Linked DNA regions of Homo sapiens: region 2 is linked to region 1. Evidence: fine-mapped expression QTL. A gene starts in region 1. The other region holds a variant in brackets. All regions are shown on one strand. Distances are from middle to middle.

Evidence for each region. PIP is the estimated chance that this variant, and not a neighbour inherited with it, causes the effect.
Region 2: its variant is the best candidate, but not a certain one, in a credible set for the expression of CABLES2 in whole blood (TOPMed, PIP 0.70).

What each region holds. Positions count from the first base shown.
Region 1 is chr20:62,404,062-62,409,419 of GRCh38, reverse strand. CABLES2 (Cdk5 and Abl enzyme substrate 2) reads left to right here and starts at 2,135. Exons shown (of 10, transcript NM_031215.3): 1 at 2,135-2,505. The coding sequence starts at 2,144. It overlaps LOC105372709 (a long non-coding RNA gene), which reads left to right and starts at 2,526. Exons shown (of 2, transcript XR_936967.3): 1 at 2,526-4,530. RefSeq lists a silencer at 1,969-2,218.
Region 2 is chr20:62,371,344-62,376,701 of GRCh38, reverse strand. LOC105372708 (a long non-coding RNA gene) reads left to right here. Exons shown (of 2, transcript XR_936966.4): 2 at 1-2,887. Among named protein-coding and RNA genes, the nearest start is that of LAMA5, 6.7 kb to the right of the region's middle. RefSeq lists enhancers at 1,102-1,703, 1,704-2,307, 4,990-5,358. The variant A/G (reference allele first, on the strand shown) is at 2,818.

The DNA.
Region 1 (5,358 bases):
TGAGAGCCAAAGAAAATAAGGAGCGAAACTCATGAGCAGGGCCCTCTGCAGCCAAAGCACCAAGGTGAGCTGGGCATTTAAAACCACGCATCACAGGGATGGCAGGACACGGGCCAACGACTGGGCTGGGTGAGGCCTGGGCCAGACTGGGGTGCGGGCCTGACTCAGGGGGCACTGCCTCCCACCTGCAGCCTGTGACATGTCTGCCTGTTGTCCTGAGAGGCCAGAGGGACTGAACTCCCAAGAGGGAAGTCCAGGTGTGTTAAAGGTTGCTTTAATTTCTCCAGAATCACACGAAACAAAAGCCGTGTGTTCCCTACACACTGCCCGCAGGCCAGGTTGGCTTTTGGCCACCCATCGACACCCTGGGGAGGGGAGAAGACTGGCAGCGGGAGCCTAGCAAGGGGGTTCACCAGACCCAGGAAGAGACCCCGTTCCTTCCTCAGCATTCCTCCTTGTCCCTCAAAGTCTAGCTTAGCGCCAGCAAAGAAGAACTGGCTAGGGGCCCCCCTACTGCACAGCCGATCCCCAGGACCCGGCGCTGCAGCCAGCACGGACAGCTGCCTCCTGCCTCCTGCGTCCTGCCCTCCACCCTCACTCGCCCCTTTCTGTTCTCATCTGACACCAGATTCTCTGCAAGCTGCTGGTGTATGGCCCACCCTCCCCTGTCAGGCCCCTCCTCCTGGTGATAGCCAGCAGGGATGGAGGGCCCACTGTGTGCCTGCCCCAGCCTCAGCACCCTACAGCGCTGGACACACTCACTCCCCGCTCACGGGAGCCCCCAGGCACACAAGTCAGCACCCCATTCTGTGGATCCAGAATCCGCAGCCACCCCTCTGCTATGCCACCCAGCCCCGCGTTCTCCTAGACAGGACAGCTGCCCACCTTCCCCTAGGCCTGGCAGAGGCCTTGGAGGCCAACTTGGAAGGGCGGAGGGAAAGGAAATGGAGGTGCTGCATGCTGCGTGAGCCCCAATGGTGGCCCGTGAAGGCCCACAGGAGGGAGCAGGCAGGCGGGAGGTGGGTAGGGGCCTGAAGGGCAGGGGCCCATGCTAGGGGTGGTGATGAAGACCCTGTCTTGCCCACTCGCCCACTGCCTTGTTGGCCATCATGCTGCCTCCCCACACACCAGGTGCTCCTAGGGCCAGCGCTGTGCCTGTCGGTCCCACCGGGTCCCCAGCACCCAGCACAGGAGAGGCTGGGCGCATGCGGGCAGGTGCGAGGTACTGCAGCGCATTCGCGGACTGACCACTGCATGTGCCTGGCCTCCGGCCACAGCCCGACCCCCTCACTGAGCCAGTTTCATCCTGACAGTACCCTGAGGCTGAAATCATTGTCCCCTCTTTAAAGATACGTAAACCCATGAAAGAAAGCTGGACAGAGCAGGCAGGTGACACAGAGGTGGGTGCAAGGTCCTGAGTCCCTCCACAAAGATACAGCGGGTTCCCCTCCAGACTGCAGACAGGCTCCCGGGCTCCAGAGGCAGGCCCTGACCATCCCGGTGCCACGGGCTCACAGGTTCTGAAGTCAGGGGCACCCAGGCACAGAGAGGAAACAGGCCTGGGCACAAGGCAGGCTCAAGGTCACTTTGCTACTGCAGGAAGTGCAGGACTCTGCCTGGGGCTTTGATCCCAAGCAGGTGCCTTCTCCACTCAGACCCTCGTTCCCTTCTGTCAATGAAGGAGGCCAGATGGCACGCGGGCCCTTCCGGGAAGCGGTGGGGCTCCTCCAGGGGCCGCCCTGCGCCCGCTGAAGCGCCGCCCAGACACACCTCCGGACAGGGAAGTGTGCTGGGGCCTCACCCACGCCGCCCTGGGTCCGGAGCCTTAAAATGTGCGCTCGATGGAGGCCATCCGCGAAGGCCGCCATACAGCAAAGGGAACAGAAAGCGAGAGCCCCGCGGCCGCAGGTCCCAAGACGGGGACTCGAACCGGCGGGGAGGCGCGCAGCTCCCGACTCCCTGCTGCTGCGTCCGACCGCCTCTAGGACCCAGGGGAGCGCCCTGAGCGCGGCACCTCGCTGGCCAATGGGAGAGCGCGACGGCGATACATTTGCATGTGGGCGCGCCGCGGCCAATGGGCGGCGGGCGCGCGGGCGCGCGGGCAGGGGGTGGGGCGCTTCGCGGCGGCGGGCGCAGTCTGAGGATGGCCGCGGCCGCGGCCGGTGGAGCCCCGGGCCCGGCCCCCGGCCCCGCCGGGCCCCCGCCACCCGCCGCGCCGACCTCGGCCGCTCGGGCCCCGCCGCAGGCGCTGCGGAGGCGCGGGGACTCGCGGCGCCGCCAGGCCGCGCTTTTCTTCCTCAACAACATCTCCCTGGACGGGCGGCCCCCGAGCCTGGGCCCGGGCGGAGAGAAGCCCCCGCCGCCGCCCGCCGAGGCCCGCGAACCGCCAGCGCCGCCGCCGCCGGAGCCCCCCACCGGGCTGCCCGCCAGGACCCCCGCGCCCCAGGGCCTGCTCAGCCCCACGCAGGTGCCCACCGGCCTCGGCCTGGATGGGCAGCGCCAGAGGTGAGTGGGGGCCCGGCCAGGTCAGCCCAGGACGCGGGGTACAGGGACGGGGACGGGGGCCGGATCAGCCCAGGACTAGGGGTCAGGATTACTTGGGGCCTCATCAGCCCAGGACAAGGGGGTCAGGTGACCTGGGGCCTTGTCAGCCCTGGACAGAGGCCAGGACAAAGGGGTTGGGTTCACCTGGGGCCTTGTCAGCCCTGGACAGAGGTTCAGGTGACCTGAGCCCCTGTCAACCCAGGACACAGGGGTCAGGGTCAGTCTGGGCCCTCATCAGCCCAGGACACAGGGGTTGGGTTCACCTGGGACCTTGTCAGTCCTGGATACAGAACTGGGGGTTCCTGGGCTGGCTGAGGGTTTCCTCAGGCCCTGTCACCCCCCACACATAGGGTTCATTGTCCCCTGAATTCTCCCAGCCCCTGAATACGGGGTCTGGATCTCCACGTTGTCAGTGCTCTGAAATGGGTTTTAGGGTTCAGCCCTTATTACCCCTGAGACCCCCAGCCCTGTGGGTTCTGGACATGCCCCCACCCCCATCCACTGGTACCAGTGCCCGGGACACAGGGACACATGGACAGCCCTGTGCATCTCTTCGCATTCTTTGAACCGGGCCACACCGTCCATGCCCACCTCCTCAGACCCAGCATGTGGGCCGGGGTCCTCCTGGCACTGTCACTGACACCTGTTCCCAGAGGCCCCTGCACAGCCACATCTCCCATCCCACAGCCACTGGTCTCTGGCACCCCTCCTCTCCCTGTCACTTCCCTGCTGAGCCCCGCCCTTCCCCACATCACTCTCAGCTCGGTATCTTTGGGTCTGTCACACCCTGGGTCTCCACTGCTCCCCCTGCCTTGATTCCATTTCTGGGAACCACCTCAGCCCATCCCAGGGCAACCCCAACCATGAGCCCTGCCTGTCCAGCGTGTGCCCCCTGCCCAGATGGCCCCTGGCTGCCCGACACCCTGTGTCCTTCTCCCAGAGACCACAGGACCTGGGTGACCCTGCCTCCCACAGCCCTCACCTCCAGGAGTGACTGTGGGCTCTGGGCCCAGGACTGGCTGCTTGTTGCGGTTCCTTCTCAAAGGGAGCCACTGTCCACAGGTCCAAGTGCCTGCTGGGCGGCTGTTCCCAGAGGCAGCCCCTGCAGGTGTGCAGCAAAGGGGCCGACACAGAGCTCTTGGGTCAAGGCTGGCACGTGCTCCTTGCTTACCTGGAGGTCATCAGAGTTGCCCCACGCCCCTGGCCTTCGGGCAGGTGGAGGCATTGGGTTCCTCTAAGGTCTTTGGTTGGGGAAGTTTGGGCCCAGAACACAGCACTCTGTCCTCAAAGACTATGACGTCACATGCAGGTTGCGTCACACGCAGGTCGCGGTGCACTCCATCCTTGGAAGTGTTCCTGGCCGTAGCCAGGCTGAGGGTGCCTGCAGACCCAGGCCTGTCCACAAGATGTCCCCCCACGGACATGCCTGGCCGCTGCTCCAGGGAGGGTCAGAGGGATGATTGGGGCAGAGGGATGGATTTGCCCAAATGTGGCAGCCAGGCCCCATGCATTTGGCATGGCCAGCTCCTTCAGGAAGGCGGGAGAGATGGAACAAGGTGGTGACTCTCCAGGGCAGAGCGGCAAGGCCCTAAGGTGTGGACTCCAGGGGAAGCGGGCTCACCCCAACGGGCCGAGCTCCGCAGGTGTGGTGGGCTTTTCCCTAACCCCGGGCCCTGTTGTTTGACATGGAAACAGCTTTCTCCCTCAGTCCTGCATGTTGAGTGTCCAGAACCGGATGGTGACACCAGGCAGACTGGGTGCTGTCATAGGCCCTCCTTCCACAGAGTTCATGCACCCCTGTGTGCACCAGGCCTGGCGTGGAGTGGAGCCCACTTGAGTGGAGGGAGGCAGAGCGTGGCGACGCGCAGGGAAGTGCCTGTGACTGAGAAGGCACCCCCTGCAGGCCCAGAGCCTCCATGGTGACAGTTCTGAGCGCAGCATGCTGCCCACGTGCAGCACATCCCTGCCCTGTGGGATTGTTAGAAGGTGCGCTGTGGCCGGCATCCCTGGGACAGGATGGGACGTGGCATGGGCTGGGTGCCTGCAGTCCTCCTGCCGTACCCACCATGGGCCCAAGCGCCACCACCCCTTGCCTTGCCCAGGGCTGTCTCCTCCCTTCCCTCCTCCTTGGCCCCCATGTCCCTGTTCAGGTCTTTCCTGAACCCCACTCTGTTCCTGGAGGGGGAGGCGTCCCTCCTGGGGCTCTGCTGCCAAGTTCGTGGTGCTGACCTTGTTTCTGAGGGCCATGGCCCCTCCCTGATAGGTAGACCCCAGCGTGAGGACGTCCATTTCACCCTGCGTTCCCTGGGCCTGGCTGCTGATCGAGGGAAGGGTGGCTGCCCCGGCAAAAGGGGCTGCTAGCTCCTGGCTTGAGAGTTCTAGGATGAGTTGGTTTCAGGAAATGGAGAGAATTCTGAAAGTCCTGAAGGCAGCCCTGATGTTGGTCTTGTGAGTGTGGTGGTTTGACCTGGGCTCTGGGAACAGACTTGGCTTGGAATCCCAGCTGCACTGTTCAGTACCTCTGTGACCTTGAGCAGGTGACATGGCCTCTCTGAGCCTCAATCTCCTCTGAGAAGCGGGTTCACACTAAGCACTAAGCATGGCCTCCCTGAGGTCAGAGGTCAGATGCGTGCCCAGGGCTTGGTGAGGTATGTGGCAGGAGTCAGTGTGAGATGAGCAGAGCCTCTTTTTTTTTGAGACAGGGTCTCTCTCTGTCTCCCAGGCAGGAGTGCAGTGGCGCAATCACAGCTCACTGCAGCCTCTACCTCCTGGGCTCGAGTTATCCTGTCTCAGCCTCCCAGTAGCTGGAACTAT
Region 2 (5,358 bases), 33 kb after region 1:
GCACGGCCGCCTGGGGGCAGGCCGAGGCAGGCGGATCCTGAGGGAGCAGCCGCCTGGTGCCAGGCCTGGGGAATTCCAGGAGGCAGAGGCCTCAAAAGCCCTCCTCCAGGCTCCGAGTTCCCAGCAGCCCCTGCCACATTCCTCCACCTGGGTGGGCAGGGGTGCAGGGGCTCAGTGCATTCCTGGTGGAGATAGGGAGGCCAGCCTGCGGCCTGCGCCAGCCTCCTGCGGGGCCTGGGGAGCCCTGTCCAGGCTCTGCCGAGCTCAGCATATTGGAGCTGAGCCAGTCGGCCTTTGCTGGAACACTCAGGCGGAGGTCGCCTTTCGCCTTTCTGTGTGGGGAGAAGCCACTTGCAGATAAGGCAGGGATTCACCAGCTCCGGGGGGCTGGCAGGACATGGCCACACTTCACCTGCAACCAAGCCTCCCCATCTGTAAAATACAGATAACAAGGGGGCCAGGCGGTGGCTCACACCTGTAATCCCAGCACTTTGAGAGGATGAGGCCTGTGGATCACTTGAGGTCAGGAATTCGAGACCAGCCTGGCCAACATAGTGAAACCTTGTCTCTACTAAAAATACAAAAATTAGCTGGGCGTGGTGGCGAGCACCTGTAATCCCAGCTACTCAGGAAGCTGAGGCAGGAGAATCGCTTGAACCCGAGATGCAGAGGTTACAGTGAGCCGAGATCGCGCCACTGCACTCCAGCCTGGGCGACGAGCAAAACTCCATCTCAAAAAACAAAAAAAAACAAGAGCAGGTCCCTCGCAGGAGATGGGAGCCAGCTCCGCGCCCGGCCTGATGTCGGCTGCACGGGCTGCCTGGCTCTCCTGCACAGAGGTGGGAGGGAGGCACGGGGGGGCCCAGGTCAAGAAAACACAACCCCCACATGTTCAGGGGGCTGGAGGTGGGGGCTGCGCCTCTGACCTGAAGCTGCCCAGCAAGCCCTTTGTGGAGCCAGGAGCAGGCAGTGGGCAACTGGGCCGACAGGCCCTACCCTGGCCGCCAGGAGGCTCCGTGGCAGCTGCTCTCTTGCACGCCATCCCCACTGCCACTCCCGGGTTCTGAGAGAGAGCCCCATGGGAGGCCACGCACAGACCCCTGACCTGGCTGCCGGGGGTGGTCCAGATCCCTTGCGAGAGGAAACGTGGGCCCCCAGTGGACCCCAGCACCATCTGTGGTCAGCGGGAGCCTTCCAAGTCTCCGTGTGTTTACATTCCCCCAGGAAATAGCTCCCCAGAAGAGCTGCAAATATTTTCTTAATGTTGGAACTTGTGGCAAACAGAGGCCTGGAGTGGGCCCACCCACACTTTGCCCCTCCACACATCGGGGGCCCAGTGGGATCCTGGGGTTACCTCCTCACCTGGCCCACCCCCTCCCCCTCCCCCTCCTGGCAGGGGACAGGCACATGGGGGCCCAGCTGGGGCATCTTCCTGCCGGAGCTGGGGCAGCCAGCCCAGGGGATTCAGTGGCACTGCCATCCTCCCACCTTTCAGCCTTCCTTTCGTGAAACTGGGCTGGCAATAGGTGGAGGTGGCTGAGGTGTTGCTTGGCGGTTTGAATCAATGAAGACCCTAGGGGACGGGGGTCAGGCCCTGGACCTGCCTAGTAACTCAGGCTCCTGGCAGACCGGGCTGAAGACAGAGGCAGCTGCGGGGCTGTCTCTCCCGCCCCAGGCTGAGTCAGTGTGTAGGGCTGGGTGTCCTGGGTATGTGATGGCCCTAAACACAGGCCCCCACCTCTCTGTGCATGAGCACAGGTCCAGCTGGTGTTGGCAGGCTGTGTGGGTGGCCCATAAGCACCAAGAAGTACCCTGCTTCTACTGACCTCCACCTGAAGACTCCCAGGCACCTGCCCGCCTGAACTGGCTCTGCAGGCTCACTCAGCATCCACGTGCTCCTCCCTCTCCCCCTCCACACTGGCGAGGGGCCAGTGGCCATGGCACATCCCAGGCCTCCGGTCCCTGGTCCCTGGGCAGCCCCTCCAAGAGCCTGCCTGTACAGAGTGCCGCTCCTGTCCACTGATGTCTACTGTGTGGATGGACCACGTTTCTCTCCCCAGTCGACCCTGGATGGCCGTTCGGGCTGTTTCTGCCTGATGGCTCTGGTGCCTGGCGCTGCCGTGCGTGTTTACCCACGAGTGTCTGTGCAGAGACGTGTTTACGCTTCTCTCTGCAGCTACCAGGTGTGGAGCTGCTGGGCCGTGTGCAACTGTGTTCAGTCCTTTGAGGAACCACCAGCTGGTGTCCTAGCAGCTCCCACACTGGACACCACACTGGTCCCCGCAGGATCCTGCCTGTAGTTGTTATTGTCTTATTTCCTGATTCTGTTGGTGGCTATAGAGTGAGGATCACGGTGTGGGCCTCAGGCGGGCATAAAAAGAGGCTGGAGTCTGGGCACTGGGCCCTTGCCTGCCACGCCTGGTGTGGGAGGATGTGGGTCCCGGGGCAGTGGGAAGGTGACGGGAGAGGGGCGATCGGTCATTCAGCCACCATCGTCCAGCAGCCCAGCGCTGGGCTCGGACGCAGCAGTGAGCACACGGAGCTGCCTCTGCCTTATGTGCTTTGTCTGGGGGGCTGATGTGGGTCAGGAGATCTCATCCTGGACGCCCAAGGACACGCTGCACTGTCCTCTGTGAGCCGGGGGCAGCAACATGCCTCCCGGGCAGAGGGCGCAAGGACAGAGGGCCCATCCCTGTTGTGGATGGCACTTTCAGTGTGGAAGTGCGCGGCCTGGGAGCCGTCACTCCTGGGATCCTGGTTCACTGCAGAATCTGGACCAGCTCCTGGGCAGGAACCGTGGCCCGTTGTGTCCCAGTG[A/G]TGGCACCAGCCCCCAGACTAAGCCAAGCCCCACGTTCGATCCAGTCAAATAAAGTGACCGAGGCGCACACCCGCGATCCCTAGTGAACGTGACCGAGGCGCACACCCGCGATCCCTAGTGAACGTGACCGAGGCGCACACCCGCGATCCCTAGTGAACGTGACCGAGGCCCACACCCGCGATCCCTAGTGAACGTGACCGAGGCGCACACCCGCGATCCCTAGTGAACGTGACCGAGGCCCACACCCGCGATCCCTAGTGAACGTGACCGAGGCGCACACCCGCGATCCCTAGTGAACGTGACCGAGGCCCACACCCGCGATCCCTAGTGAACGTGACCGAGGCGCACACCCGCGATCCCTAGTGAACGTGACCGAGGCGCACACCCGCGATCCCTAGTGAACGTGACCGAGGCCCACACCCGCGATCCCTAGTGAACGTGACCGAGGCTCACACCTGTGATCCCTAAGACCCTTGGCTGAGCTTGGCAGGGCTAGGGCAGCAGCGGGGGGAACACAAAGAGAGCAAGAGAGACAAAGAGAGATAGAGAGACACAAAGACAGAGAGATACAGAGACAGAGAGAAACAGAGACAAAGAGACAGAGATCGAGACAGATGGAGACAAGCAGAAACGGAGAAACAGAGATAGACAAAGAGATAGAGACAGAGACAGAAATAGAGATGGAGACAAGCAGAAACGGAGAAACAGAGATAGACAAAGAGATAGAGACAGAGACAGAAATAGAGAGAGAGATGGAGACAAGCAGAAACGGAGAAACAGAGAGATAGACAAAGAGATAGAGACAGAGAAATAGAGACAGAGAGTTGAAGACAGAAACAGACAGAGAAAGAGATACAGAGATAGAGACAGAAACAGAGACAGACAGATGGAGACAGAGAGGCAGAGAGTCAGAGGGAGAGAGTCAGGAGAGGGAGGGGTGGGAGGGGGACGCTTCCCTCTGCCCCAGGGACCCTGGCTAGCCAAGGCACACACCAGGGCGCAGGCAGAGGGGATGAAGCCCCGTGGGCGTCCATGAGGCTGGAAGCGGCTGACTGTGGGGCCTGGGGAGTTGCCCTTGCAGTGCGGGAAAGCCAACCCGGATGAGGGGAGGCCTTTGTCCTGAGGAGGGGCCTTTGCAGAGCTGCAGGTGTTCCCATCCATGTGGGACCCCCAGCCAGATGTCCCAAGGTCGGTGAGGGGCCGGGCCAAGCTGCCTCCCTCTGAGGGGTTCTCAGCCCAGGAGGCTGGGTTCATGGGAGACATTTGAGGGTGGGCTCGTGGGGGCCCTGGCCTCGCCCAGGGCGCAGTCCCAGGTTCCTGCCCAGGCTCTGGCTCTGCCCACTGGGCCCTCCTGGGAAGTCAGATTCCTCCTGGGCTTCGAGGCCTTCTGGCCATATAAGGCCGTCTGTGGGCACCTCCTGGAGAAGCTCAGAACCCTCACCCCCCACCCGCCCCACCCTCTATGAGAACCAGAGCTCAGCCAGGCAAGGACAGAGGCAGGGGAGGGCCTGCTGGAGCCGTGGTCCTGTGGGGGAGGAGGGCACAGGCAGGCCAGGCCCCAGGGGTAGAGGCTCAGGGTCCCGAGTCACCCTGCCCAGCATGCTGGGGCGCCCCCATTCCGCCTGTTTCCCCTGGGGTTCCTGGCCCCTGGAGCTCACTAGGGCTCCCCAGTCTAGGCCTGAGGCAAGCAAGTGGTAAGAATGGGGGTACGGGGTAGGGGGACCGCAATTAAATAAGATTAAGGTGACACGTGGAAGCGTAGGTGCCCGGCCTCGGGGTGGACGCTGCAGCCGTGTGCCACTGCATGTTTACCCCGGGCGATGCCTTTTCTGGGGCTCCCCAGAGATCTGGGGGCAGGAGTCCTGGACTCTGCCTCACACCCCAGCAAGGTGCTGGGAGGTGCCCTGACAGGGGCCCCCACTTGAGGGAGGGGATGGGTTGGGGTCCTGGGAGCAACCTTGTTACTGGACCGGCCCCTTCCCTGCCAAGTTGTAGGTGGTTAGATCCCAGGGAGGTCCCGGGCCCCCTCCCTGGGAGTTCCCAGGGCCCCCTACTCCTTCCCTCCTAAAGGCTGGCAGGGTGGAGGCTCCCCTACACCCAGCTACACAGGCCCAGGCCGGGGCAGGGGCATCCAGGTGGGATCCTGGACTCTGGACTTTCGGTCGCCACGCAGACCACCCCACAGAGCTCCATGAGGCCCCCCCATTTCTGAGCACCCCAGGTTTGCCTGCTTGTCATGGGGCTGGGCCCGCCTGCACAGGGCACCAGCCCAAGCGCTTCTCCTTGCCACTTGGGAAGAAAAGGAGCTGGGTGGGCAAGAGGAGCCTCGGGGAGCATCTGTGGAGAGCCCAAGGAGCCCGGATGCTGACCCTCTCCAGATCTCCGACACTGGGCACCACCTAAGCCTGTCTGCACCCCCTCTGGCATGGGGGCCCACCTGAAACCCCCCAGGTGTGAACCCAGTGGCAGCCTTTGGGTCGGGCCTCGGGGAGTGGGCAGGCGTGAGGCATGTCACCTGCACGGGTGACTTGTCTCCTGGA